Regions from separate parts of the Homo sapiens genome. Here all the other regions are reported to be linked to region 3. Evidence: microRNA targets listed by miRTarBase, many of them from high-throughput screens and not tested one by one. Region 3 holds a microRNA gene; each other region holds the end of a gene's coding sequence.
The links. The annotated mature microRNA hsa-miR-5586-3p reads CAGAGUGACAAGCUGGUUAAAG and lies in region 3 at 1,852-1,873, opposite strand. An mRNA with a match to its seed (bases 2 to 7 or 8) in the 3' UTR can be bound and repressed. Matches are read on the target gene's strand: a 7mer-m8 pairs with bases 2 to 8, a 7mer-A1 pairs with bases 2 to 7 and ends in A, and an 8mer does both.

Region 1: the mRNA of IL20RB is a reported target of hsa-miR-5586-3p. Seed matches in the 3' UTR shown: 7mer-A1 at 997-1,003.
Region 2: miRTarBase lists RASSF9 as a target of hsa-miR-5586-3p. Seed matches in the 3' UTR shown: 7mer-m8 at 1,021-1,027.

Annotation. Positions count from the first base shown.
Region 1 is chr3:137,009,631-137,013,830 of GRCh38, forward strand. IL20RB (interleukin 20 receptor subunit beta) reads left to right here. Exons shown (of 7, transcript NM_144717.4): 7 at 483-1,455. The coding sequence ends at 593. Among named protein-coding and RNA genes, the nearest start is that of IL20RB-AS1, 30 kb to the left of the region's middle. RefSeq lists a cis regulatory region at 4,148-4,200.
Region 2 is chr12:85,800,777-85,805,005 of GRCh38, forward strand. RASSF9 (Ras association domain family member 9) reads right to left here. Exons shown (of 2, transcript NM_005447.4): 2 at 1-4,229. The coding sequence ends at 3,926. Among named protein-coding and RNA genes, the nearest start is that of RASSF9, 34 kb to the right of the region's middle.
Region 3 is chr14:59,645,111-59,649,359 of GRCh38, forward strand. MIR5586 (microRNA 5586) reads right to left here and starts at 1,910; the gene lies at 1,852-1,910. All of the region lies in intron 3 of RTN1 (reticulon 1), which reads right to left.

The DNA.
Region 1 (4,200 bases), not on the chromosome of region 3:
CCAGGCTCAATTGATCCTCCTGCCTCAGCCTCACGAGTAGCTGGGACCACAGACATGTGCCACCATGCCTGGCTAGTTTATTTTTTGTGGAGAGGGAGCCTTGCTATGTTGCCCAGGCTGGTCTCTAAGTCCTGGGCTCAAGCGATCTGCCTGTTTCAGCCTCCCAAGGCAGGTGTGAGCCATTGCACCTGCCTTTAATTTTTTTTTTAAGAACCAGAATTACATTCTGGGTTTTTGTGGGGCAGGGTCTTAGAATGAGGAACTCTGACCAAGCAGGGCTTCAAGGGAACTGTAGGGTAGTGAACTGGGAGATATTCTTAGCAAATGTTGGAAGCCCCTGATCTAGGGCTTGAAATTGTTTTTTGGTTTTTGTTTTTGCTGCTTGGAAATTAATTAATCAAATAGTTAAAAATGTAATAATATTCTTTAGTATTACTACTACTGCTATCCTCTAATGAATATTAATGAAAATTATTTTTCAGAAAATAACCAATTCACCCCAGAAGTTAATCAGCTGCAGAAGGGAGGAGGTGGATGCCTGTGCCACGGCTGTGATGTCTCCTGAGGAACTCCTCAGGGCCTGGATCTCATAGGTTTGCGGAAGGGCCCAGGTGAAGCCGAGAACCTGGTCTGCATGACATGGAAACCATGAGGGGACAAGTTGTGTTTCTGTTTTCCGCCACGGACAAGGGATGAGAGAAGTAGGAAGAGCCTGTTGTCTACAAGTCTAGAAGCAACCATCAGAGGCAGGGTGGTTTGTCTAACAGAACACTGACTGAGGCTTAGGGGATGTGACCTCTAGACTGGGGGCTGCCACTTGCTGGCTGAGCAACCCTGGGAAAAGTGACTTCATCCCTTCGGTCCTAAGTTTTCTCATCTGTAATGGGGGAATTACCTACACACCTGCTAAACACACACACACAGAGTCTCTCTCTATATATACACACGTACACATAAATACACCCAGCACTTGCAAGGCTAGAGGGAAACTGGTGACACTCTACAGTCTGACTGATTCAGTGTTTCTGGAGAGCAGGACATAAATGTATGATGAGAATGATCAAGGACTCTACACACTGGGTGGCTTGGAGAGCCCACTTTCCCAGAATAATCCTTGAGAGAAAAGGAATCATGGGAGCAATGGTGTTGAGTTCACTTCAAGCCCAATGCCGGTGCAGAGGGGAATGGCTTAGCGAGCTCTACAGTAGGTGACCTGGAGGAAGGTCACAGCCACACTGAAAATGGGATGTGCATGAACACGGAGGATCCATGAACTACTGTAAAGTGTTGACAGTGTGTGCACACTGCAGACAGCAGGTGAAATGTATGTGTGCAATGCGACGAGAATGCAGAAGTCAGTAACATGTGCATGTTTGTTGTGCTCCTTTTTTCTGTTGGTAAAGTACAGAATTCAGCAAATAAAAAGGGCCACCCTGGCCAAAAGCGGTCTTTAAAGTTCTAGTTACATTTTCAACCTCAAGTCCAGAGAGGCTCCAAAGGATACCTTTGGTCAAGAGGACTCGGGGTGGGGGTGGGGGTGGGGATGGGAGCAGCGGAGGAGCAGCCCCAGAAGTCCAGAGCCCAGGGCTGCCTGGTTGGGGGCAGCCTCTGGCTGCATGAGAACCCCAACTGAGGCAGCTGGCATAAGCTTCGCCTGGTTAGGTGCTCCTAAGCCTTTCCTGTTGGCCCCACCCCACAGGAAATCCCTGGGGAACCCTCTTTTCCTTGACAGCTTACTCAGGGTATCCCCAGCCCCTCTTAGTCTGCTCATTTAGGACCTACCTCTGGAAGCTTCTACCCACCCCTTTGCCCCACCAGGTGAAGAAAAGAGCCAACCACAGAGAAGGAATGATGGGAGGAAACTTCTTGAGGGGTGAAGGGATTGATGGGCAGGGCCTGCGCCTTGCTTTCTAACCCCCTCGAAGCTCTGGAGCCTCCAAGTTGGTTTATCTTCACCCTCACTTCCTGGGCCCTTTCCAGCCAGCCCAGTGGTGGGACAGTCTAACTGCATCAACTGGGTGTTTCCCCAGAGGCCCACAGCCCTTCACCACCTGGAGGGGTCTCTCCAGGAGCATGAGATCGCTCAAGACCCGTTCCTTCTTTTCCTTTGTGTTATTTTGTATGCTTCTCTGTGTTGTTCGTTAGAGGGTGTGTGCTAATTTTATATTTGACCTAAACTAGAAACACACTTTCAGTTTGCAAAAACAAAGACCATATTACTATTCCAGTCATCACCCTCCCTCCTCTCTCTTCCTGCCCCCTTATGGTGGGGTGGTGGGGGGCACTATCCTTCTGTCACAGCCCAGGCGCAGAACTGAGAAAGGACCCTGACCTCCATCTGCTTGAGTCTCTCACAACTATTCCCAGTGCCCATCCATTTTTTGGCATCTATAGGTACACAGAGATTTCTCTTGATTCTTCTGTTGTCTCCCCTTGCCCTGAATGTGCATTTATGGAGCCCCAGCCATGCACCCGACCTGCCAGCCCCCATTGGTGGAGGGGCTGCCTCCTCTACAGCTGGCTGTTCCCTCTCCCCTGGAGCACTTCTATCCCAAGTCCCCAGGCCTCCTCCCTGCCCCTCCAATGCATTTATCCCTACATCTGGACACTTACATGAGTGAAAAGGAATGTGATTAGTAATTACGGCAGGACCACAGCTGTAAATCGGGACTCCTCTGGGCAAACCAGGAGCCAGGTCACTCTCATCATAAGGCACAGCTTCCTGCCACATTCTTTTTCTAGAAGCTCCAACCCTCCAGATGCCCAGTCACTGAGTCCAGGGGCTCAGGCTCAGCACTACTGGCTTGCTTTGTTTTCACAGTTTCTCATTGAGTCCTGTGGGAATTGGGGGAAGTACTTGTGTGTGTGTGTTGTGGGGGGATAAGTATTTGGGAGCAGCCTAGAGTGGCTTCTGCTGTTTCACTGAAGACTGTCTCTTGCAGGCCAACCCAGTAGAGTCCCCTGAGCCCCCAGAATCAAGCCCAGCTTTCTTAGTCCTGCCTTTAGGGTGCAACTGCCAGGGTCCAGTGAATAAAATCCCTGCTCCATGAGGCTTACATTCCAATGGGGTAAGGGAGAAATAATAACACAATAACAGTATTATTATTCAGTGAATTATTTAGTATATTGGGAGTTTGTAAGTCACGGTAAAATGAAAAAGTAGAGCAGAAAACGGGGGCTGGGGGCAGGTTGCAGCCTCTTCAAAATGAAAGTGGATGGAAACAATGGACCCAGAACTACCTGTCAGATAAGTCCCTGCATAGCCACATGGTGTGAGATATTATGAGAGATTCTAGAACAAAGTAATTTGGCAACAAATCCGTAGGTGTATGTAGTCTAAAACAAAAACTTTATTGAGTATTTATCCCTTTGTATTGATAGTGTATTTTTGCAACTATTATCTTATCAGATAAAGCAAGTAAATAATATATATTTTGTATATTTTGATAAGAATCTAGATTTTAGGATTAGTGACAAGGAAGGCTAATTTTAGGATCCCAAATTTGACTAAGAACAGGGCACTGTTGGAACTGAATCAAACATATTAATATGAAGTCATGTCTTTATGAAACATGACATTAAAAATATTTTGACTTTTTTCCACTGAAATGGCCCAGGAGAAATGTCACCTCCACAATGCATCTTAATGCTAAGATTTTGGTTTCTAGTGTTAGTTTTCTCCCAAAGGAGCCAAAGTTTCTTGGAGCAGTAATGGATGCCATGTCAGTTTGGAGTTGAAAGGTACAAGGTAATCTTAAAACACCTATACCTTTTTGAGACAGAAAGCAAAGCATTAAATAAGGGTCATTCAAAATTACACAAGGAACAATCTATACAGGGCTCCTCCTGGCCAAAGTTGGGACAATATAAGCACCAGAAGGAGAATATTGGCTGGCACAATTGATACCATATATTTGAAAAGTCATCAGTCCATGACACCCAAGAAGAGCGAAGCTACCATAATGCATTCTCAGAGAAGATGAATCTAATAGAATGCATTTCTACTTGTTATTCAATCGTGTTGGGCTTATCGACTCGTTTATCGTGTCAATGAGGAATACCAGTAAATGTAAATCCATCAGTCAGAAGGCATTTTTTCTCCTCTAAAGGCTCCTCTCCGCCCCTTAACGTCCAGTCTTTCCCCACTTGGCTCTCCCTGTCCTGTCAAGGGGTTCGGTGGAAAAGTCTTTTAAGTTCCCT
Region 2 (4,229 bases), not on the chromosome of region 3:
ACATCATGTTTATTAAACCAATCAGGCAGTATGAAAAGAAATAGCCTAGTATTTAAAAACTATATATCAGGATAAAATGTATTTCTTTGTCACTAGAAAAATATGTTTTAAATAGATTATGTCTACTTGGAAAATAATTATAAAAGGCAGCCACAGAAATATATTTTGTCATGTACAGTAGATATTTAAATAAATATAAAAATAAAATTTTAATGGATTAGAATAGCTTCTACACACTAATGAGGTGTTGTTATTTTACTTAAGAAGAAAAATGAAATAGATATTTTGTTTAGGATATTTTAAAGTTACTTTCTGTGTCTACCATTTAAAACCCAACTCTAAAATATGTTTTTTCTCATAAGCACACAATGAAATAAAAAATTCTATAATATAACCATTAAATCAGCTTAAAGAGACATTTGGGGTTTATTAAGTCAGTAATACTATTATTAAAAATAAACATTGATGCCACATTTAAAAAAATCGTAGTAGCATGAAGATTTAATTTTTCTTTCCCAAAATGTATAAGGTCAATTACTGTTAATGTTTTAAGTCTGCTAAAATACGTATTCATTCATGTACAAAATGTACAAGCATCATTTACCATCTATAAAACACACACACACACACACAAAAGCTACAAACCTCTAAAATTTAGCCACTCAATTCAAAAAGGGAGCAGGGGGCAAAGAAGTTAATAGGAAAGAGTAAGGCTAACAAGACAGATGATAAAGTAATTTAATAAGAATTCATTGGTCGGGCACGGTGGCTCACGCCTGTAATCCCAGCACTTTGGGAGGCCAAGACGGGTGGATCACAAGGTCAGGACATCGAGACCATCCTGGCTAACACGGTGAAACCCCGTCTCTACTAAAAAAATACAAAAAAATTAGCCTGGCGTGGTGGCGGGCGCCTGTAGTCCCAGCTACTCAGGAGGCTGAGGCAGGAAAATGGCGTGAAGCCGGGAGGCGGAGCTTGCAGTGAGCCAAGATCGCGCCACTGCACTCCAGCCTGGGCGACAGAGTGAGACTCCGTCTCAAGGAAAAAAAAAATAGAATTCATTGAAGGAGGGGAATTAGGTAAGTGCATAAATATATATAGCGTAAGCCAGAATAAAAATGCTTCTTATGAGAAGTACCTCTAAAATATTTCTGGGTTCAGAGATGAGATTCCAACTAATTGAATGGAACAAACGTATATCATAGAAGAGCTAGCACATTAAAAAGACTGTGGAAAGGGTAAGATTTCAGAGCATTGCAGAAGGATAAAAAGGAGAATTCCAAGTGGAAGGATGACCAAGGATGAATCTAGGTCCTGTTACAGAAATTAAGAATAGTCAGCTTTGGTTTGTTTCTTCTAGCTGCATATAGCAATTTCATAGTTAACCTGTCAGATTACTCAAGAATTTATACTTTAACATTTCTATAGATAATAACATTACACTTTCTATCAAGTTCTATACTTATAATTCCAATTCTCACTTAATTTAATAACAAATAGTTCAGTATCCAGACATGAGGGCATTGTATTTCAGTACTTCTATTTGTGTTAATATATTAACATGTAACTGTAAATTAAGAGGTTCACCATGGTAGCTGATGAAGGATTAAAACTTAATGATTGTAGTGATCAAACGCACAAATACATTTGTATAACTAATGAGCAAATGGAAATTCTGAAATGAATTTAAAAAGCAATGGTACTGCTTTCTGAGACTTACAAACATTATTTACTGTAAAATGTAGAAGAATTGAGCCTTAAATGCATTACTGTGCTTAACTGTATAAAAGCAGAAGTTAATTCAAAGTTTCTAAGATGAAATTATCTCTCCAGGCCTACTTCTTATCAGAACCTCTTGAATTCAGATAATTAGTCAAATAGATAAGCATGTTCTTTCAGTATTTTCTCACTAAAGATAAGAATAATTCAAAGAGATGACTTCCACTGTAGGAAAATGATACAATGGGTTTATCATTTACGATGATCTTCTGAATTTGATCCCCATTAGTGAACAATGAATATGTCAGTGGCTTATATTGTTGAATAATTTTATGGACTCTTAGTCAGGTGAACTTTCCTTTCACAGATGACTATTCAATTTTATCTTTTTTAAAAAAATGTAACCGATGCCAGAATTATTACTCTTTATCACTGTATTTTTCCATAGAATGGAAATTTCTATTTTTCTTACCAGCCAACTTGAAATAAGACCTGAAAATATCTATTTTGGTACAAGAAATGATAGTATAAATGCTCACGAAACTGAAACAATCAGAAAATTCTAAATGTCTTCCCAAAGATGAGTTAAAAGACAGGAGAAGGCAGGAACAAATATGTTAAGAAGATTTAAGGAGCAATATATTTTTTTAAATGAGTTAACAATAAAGTTGCTTTAAAAAATTAAATACTTTTCAAATTTTGAAAGTAAAACAATAAGAAAACTGAGTTAAAACCTGCACTAAAAGTATGCAAAAGAATAAAAGAGAAGAAATGAGAAGGATTGGGACCCTTAACCAATGTCCACATATTAAAACTAAGTAAAATAATATTTCTACTTACATGTGCAGTGACACACAGGAAAGATATCAGCTAAATAAAAATAAACTGCAGCAGTACTCAGTTAACAGTACAATAAAAAATAATTATTTCATTATGATTGCATCATGTGTTCATTGGCAGGAAGGAAGCAAAGGAAAAAAAGAAGACGGGAGAAGGAGAGATGAAGGCAGGAAAAGAGAGGAAGTAAGGCAGACAGGAAGGCAAATAAGAAGAAAGTAAGCAAAGAAGGGAGAGAGAAGAAAGCACATTTCTAATTAAAACACAAGCATAGTAGGCCATAATAATGATTGTCAGTCAAGATAAGACCTAAATAATCCCTTCAATTTCTTGAATTCTTACTAGTGTGTTGGGGATTTTGCTGGTACTTTTTTAGGAACTAAGTCTCTTTTAAGCACTTTAGATGAAGAAATAAGACAATCTGAGTTATAGCATAGCAGAATAAGTCTTTTGTCCATGTGGTCTCCTCTCTGTAGGTTCAGAGACAAAATGCTAATAATTATAGCAGATTCTATTTTATCCACAGAAGGGTTCCAAATTCCATCATTGCAACTTTTGTAGATAGGACATAAACAAATAACACTATGACTGATTTTCTCTGTAACCCACACTATACCTCACTCAGTGAATGAACATGGGTTTGGTCAGGAGATCTGAATTGCCAGATAGCAAACATCCACACATAGCTCTTAATAAATTGAGGCTTCTTTATAAAAATTGCTGTTTGTATGCAGCACTTGGCCCTGCCTCATCTGTACCCTATACGTGTCTGATTCCCTGCCAGTATTTATACATGTCCCAACAGCAGCCTGTTTCATAGGCCTCAACAGGTAGAAGGGTTCAGGAAGTGATATACATGATACGTTGTATTATCAAGGATCAATTAAAAGAACCAAACTTTGAATTAATGCAGTTACAACACAGTAGCTCCCATATACTTTACAGATTTAAAAATTCCAATTATACAGTGTTGGAAAAATATATATTACAGCACATTTTAATTCTACTTCTTCATGTTTGAATATTTGGACTGTCTAATATTGAGGATTGCTTTTAAAGTTTATGTAAATCGTTTTCCACAGACGCTAAGGAAGATTATCATATGATTCCCATCAAATTATTTCTGTGTTCTACAACGACAAGCTATTTGTGCTGCATTCGTGATAAATAGTTCATTGCTTGAACTTGCAATAATTAAAGTTCCTTTGGAAATTTCACATCAGAAACAACACATTTCTCGAGTTTTTATTAACTATTGAATACTACAATATGATTTACATTTTTTTGAGTGTTATATTTAAAATGAGGTTTCCTATTAAATTAAACAAACATTAAAACATGAAAGCAGGTCAGAAAGGAGCCATTGGAACTATGTTGACAACAGCACCACATCTCCTACTGTTGTTTCGGAGTCCTGACTGTGGTTAGAACTGATACCAGTGTCCGAGTCTGTGTCATTTGTGTAATTGCTAAATACTCTTTGAGTAAAGGGAGGAATCTCCCCATTGCTACTGGGAACCTCAGATTCCTTCGCTCTGTTTTCCTTTAACTGGCACCCATCTTTGTTGCTAATGTGAAGTGAATTGAATTCCTTGGCCAGGAGTTCATATTCTTTTGCTTTCATCTGAAGCAATGAGTCACTGTATTTAATCTCTTTCTGGATGCCACTCAAA
Region 3 (4,249 bases):
TCCTGGACCCTATTTCTCCTCACTGGGCAGAATCTCCTGACCAAGATTTACAACTACCCTCGCCAGTATGTTCAAGCTGGCAACAGATCCATACCTCCCTGGGATGGAGCTCCCAGAGGGAGTGACACACTGCCATCTTTGCTGTTTTGCAGCCTTGATTGTTGATACCTTCAGGTGCTGGAAAATCTGAGGTGATTAGAAACTGGAGCAGACCTCCTGCATATTCCAGCAGCCCAATGGAAAAGTGGCCAGACTTTTATATATGTTTGTTACATGTTTTCTATATATTACATGTTTTCTATATGTTACATGTTTTCTACATGTTACATGTTTTCTATATGTTTGTTACATGAGTCCCTGTTCCCGTATCTCCTCACTGGGCAGGTTCTCCCAGCCTGGGTCTCCAGCCTTTCCCCACTGGAGCTATTGAGCCAGTAGCAGTTCTTCAGCTCTCTGGGACAGAGCTCCCAGTGGGAGGGGTGGGTTGCCATCTTTGCTGTCTCACAGCCCTCACCCTTCTTGTCTCCAGGCTCTAGAGAGTCCATGGGGACCCGGCACTGGTCTGAACCCCCAGCACAGAGCATCCACCTAATGGAAAAGTGTCCATACTGTTCTCCACGCAGGTCCTGGTCCTCACTTCTCTTCACTGGGCAGAGTTACCAGGCCCAGGACTCCAGTGCAACCACTCTGCCCCTGCCTGACCGCTTCAATCAGAGGCAGCCCAGCAGTTAAGAGAACACCTAAATGCAGAGATGAGAAAGAACCAACACAAGAACTCTGACAAGTCAGATGACCAGAGTGTCTTATATCCTCCAAATGACTACACTAGTTCTTCAACAAGGATTCTTAACCAGGGTTGGCTGGAATAACAGAAAGAAAATTCAGAATACTGATAGGAACAAAGATCATTGAGGTTCCAGAGAATGGCAAAATCCAATCCGAGAAAACTAACAATCAAAATAAAATGATACCGAAGCTGACAGATAAAATAGCCAGTATAAAAGAACTCATCTGATAGAGCTGAAAAACAAACTGCAAGATTTTCACAATGCAGTCACAAGAATTAACAGCAAAATAGACCAAACTGAGGAAGAAATCTCAGAACTTGGAAGACTGGCTCTTTTAAACACGACAGTCATATACAGATAAAGAAAAAATAATGAAAAGGAACAAATAAAACCTCTGAGAAATATGGGATTATATAAAGAGGCCCAAACTATAAATCACTGGCATCCCTGAAAGGGATTGGGGGAAAGCAAACAACTTGGAAAACATATTTCAGGATATCTTCTGTGAAAACTTTCCCAACCTCACTACAGAGGCCAACAGTCAAATTCAGGAAATACAGAGAACCTCTGCAAGATTCTCCATAAGAATATCATCACCAAGATACACAATCAGACTTTCCAGGGTCAAAATGAAAGAAGGAATGTTAAAAGCAGCTAGAGAGAAAGGGAACCCCATCAGGCTAGCAGCAGACCTCTCAGCAGAAACCCTACAAGCCTGAAGAGATTGGGGGCCTATATTCAACATTCTCAATGAAGAAAATCTTCAACCAAGAATTTCATATCCAGCCAAACTAACCTTCCTCAGTGAAGAAGAAATAAGATCCTTTTCAGATAAGCAAATGCTGAGGGAGATCATTACCACCAGATCTGCTTTACAAGAGATCTTGAACGAAGCACTAAATATGGAAAGACCATTACCAGCCAATTAAAAAAAAACACAAGTACAGAGGCCAGTGACACTATAAAGCAACCACACAAACAAGCTGGCATAAAAAACAGATAACAATACAATGACAGAATCAAATCCACACATATCAATAATAATCTTGAAGGGGTCTTGCTTCTTTAACCAGCTTGTCACTCTGTGCCCCATTTAAAAAGCATATAGTAACAAGCTGGATAAAGAAGCAAGGCCCAATGGTATGCTGTCTTCAAGAGACCCATCTCACATGCAGTGACATCCATATGCTCAAAATAAAGGGATGGAGGAAAATCTACCAAGCAAATGGAAAACAGAAAAAAGCAGGGGTTGCAATCCCAATCTCAGACAAACAGACTTTAAACAAACAAAAATCAAAAAAGACAAGAGCGTTACATAATGGTAAAGGGTTCAATTCAACAAGAAAACCTAACTCTCCTAATACGTATGCACCCAACACAGGGACACCCAGATTCACAAAGCAAGTTCTCAAGAGACCTGCAAAGAGACTTAGACTCCAACACAATAATAGTGGGAGACTTCAACACTTACTGACAGAACTAGACAGATGATCAAGGCAGAAAATTAACAAGGATATTTCAGACCCAAATTCAACACTGGACCAAATGGATCTGATAGATCTCCACAGAACTCTCCACCCCAAAACAACAGACTATACATTCTTCTCATCACCACATGGCACATATTGTAAAGTCAACCACACAGTTGGTTATATAACAATTTTCAGCAAATGTAAAAGAACTGAAATCATACCAAATTCACTCTTGGATAGCAGTGAAAATCAAGACTACAAAAAACTCAAAACATGCAGTTACATGGAAATTAAACAACCTGCTCCTGAATGGCTTTTGGGTAAATAATGAAATTAAGGAAGAAATCAAGAAATTCTTTGAAACTAATGAGAACAAAGATACAACATACCAGAATCTCTGGGACACAGCTAAGGCAGTGTTAAGAGGGAAATTTATAGCACTAAATTCCAACTTAATATCAAAAGTTAGAATCATCTCAAATGTATAACCTAACCCTGCAACTAAAAGAACTAGAGAAGCAAGAGCAAACCAACTCCAGAGCTAGCAGAAGACAAGAAATAACCAAAATCAGGGCTGAATTGAAGGAGATCAAGACATTAAAAGCCATGAAAAAATAAGCAAATCCAAGAGTTGGTGTTTTGAAAAACATTAATAAGGTAGTCCACTACCTAGACTAATAAAGAAGAAAAGACAGATCCAAATAAACACAATCAGAAATGACAAATGGGATGTTACCATTGACCCCACAGAAATACAAATAACTATTACAGACTATTATGAACACCTCTATGCACACATGCACACAAATTAGAAAACCTAGAAGAGATAAATAAATTCCTGGACACATATACCTTCTCAAGACTGAACCAGGAAGAAATTGCTTCCCTGACCAGACCAATAATGAGCTTTGAAATTGAATCAGTAATAAATAGTCTATCAACCAAAAAGTCCAGGACCAGATGGATTCACAGCTGCATTCTGCCATTAAAATAAAGAAAGAAGAGCTGGTACCATTCCTACTGAAACTATTCCAACAAAATGAGAAGGGACTCCTCCCCAACTAATTCTGTGAGGCCAGCATCATCCTGAAACCAAAACCTGGCAGAGACACAACAAAGAAAACTTCAGCCCCATATCCTTGATGAACACTGAGGCAAAAATCCTCAACAAAATACTTGGAAACTGAATCCAGCAGCACATCAAGAAGTTAATCCACCATGATCAAGAAGGCTTTATCCCTGGGATGCAAGGTTGGTTCAATATATGCAAATCAACAAATGTGATTCATCACATAAACAGAACTAAAGACAAAAATCACATTATTAGTTCAATAGATGCAGAAAAACTTTTGATAAAATTCAACATTCATTTATGTTAAAAACTCTCAATAAACTTTGTATTGAAGGAACATACCTCAAAATAATAAGAGCCATCTATGACTAAACCACAGCCAACATCATACAGAATGGACAAAACCAGGAAGCATTCCCCCTGAAAACTGGCATAAGACGAGGATGCCCTCTCTCACCACCCCTATTCAACATAGTATTGGATGTCCTGGCCTTAGCACTCAGGCAAGAGAAAGAAATAAATGGCATTCAGGTAGTGTGATGCCACTAGCTTTGTTCTTTTTACTTATGACAAGGCTAGAGTAACCAAAACAGTATGGTACTGGTACCAAAACAGATATATAGACCAACGAAACAGAACAGAGGCCTCAGAAATAATGCCACACATTTACAACCATCTGATCTTTGACAAACCTGACAAAAACAAGCAATGGGGAAAGGATGCCCTATTTAATAAATGGTGTTGGGAAAACTGGCTAGCCATATGCAGAAAACTGAAACTGGACACCTTCCTTACACCTTATACAAAAGTTAACTCAAGATGGATTGAAGACTTAAAAGTAAGACCTAAAACCATAAAAACCCTAGAAGAAAACCTAGGCAATATCATTCTGGACACTGGCATGGGCAAAGACTTCA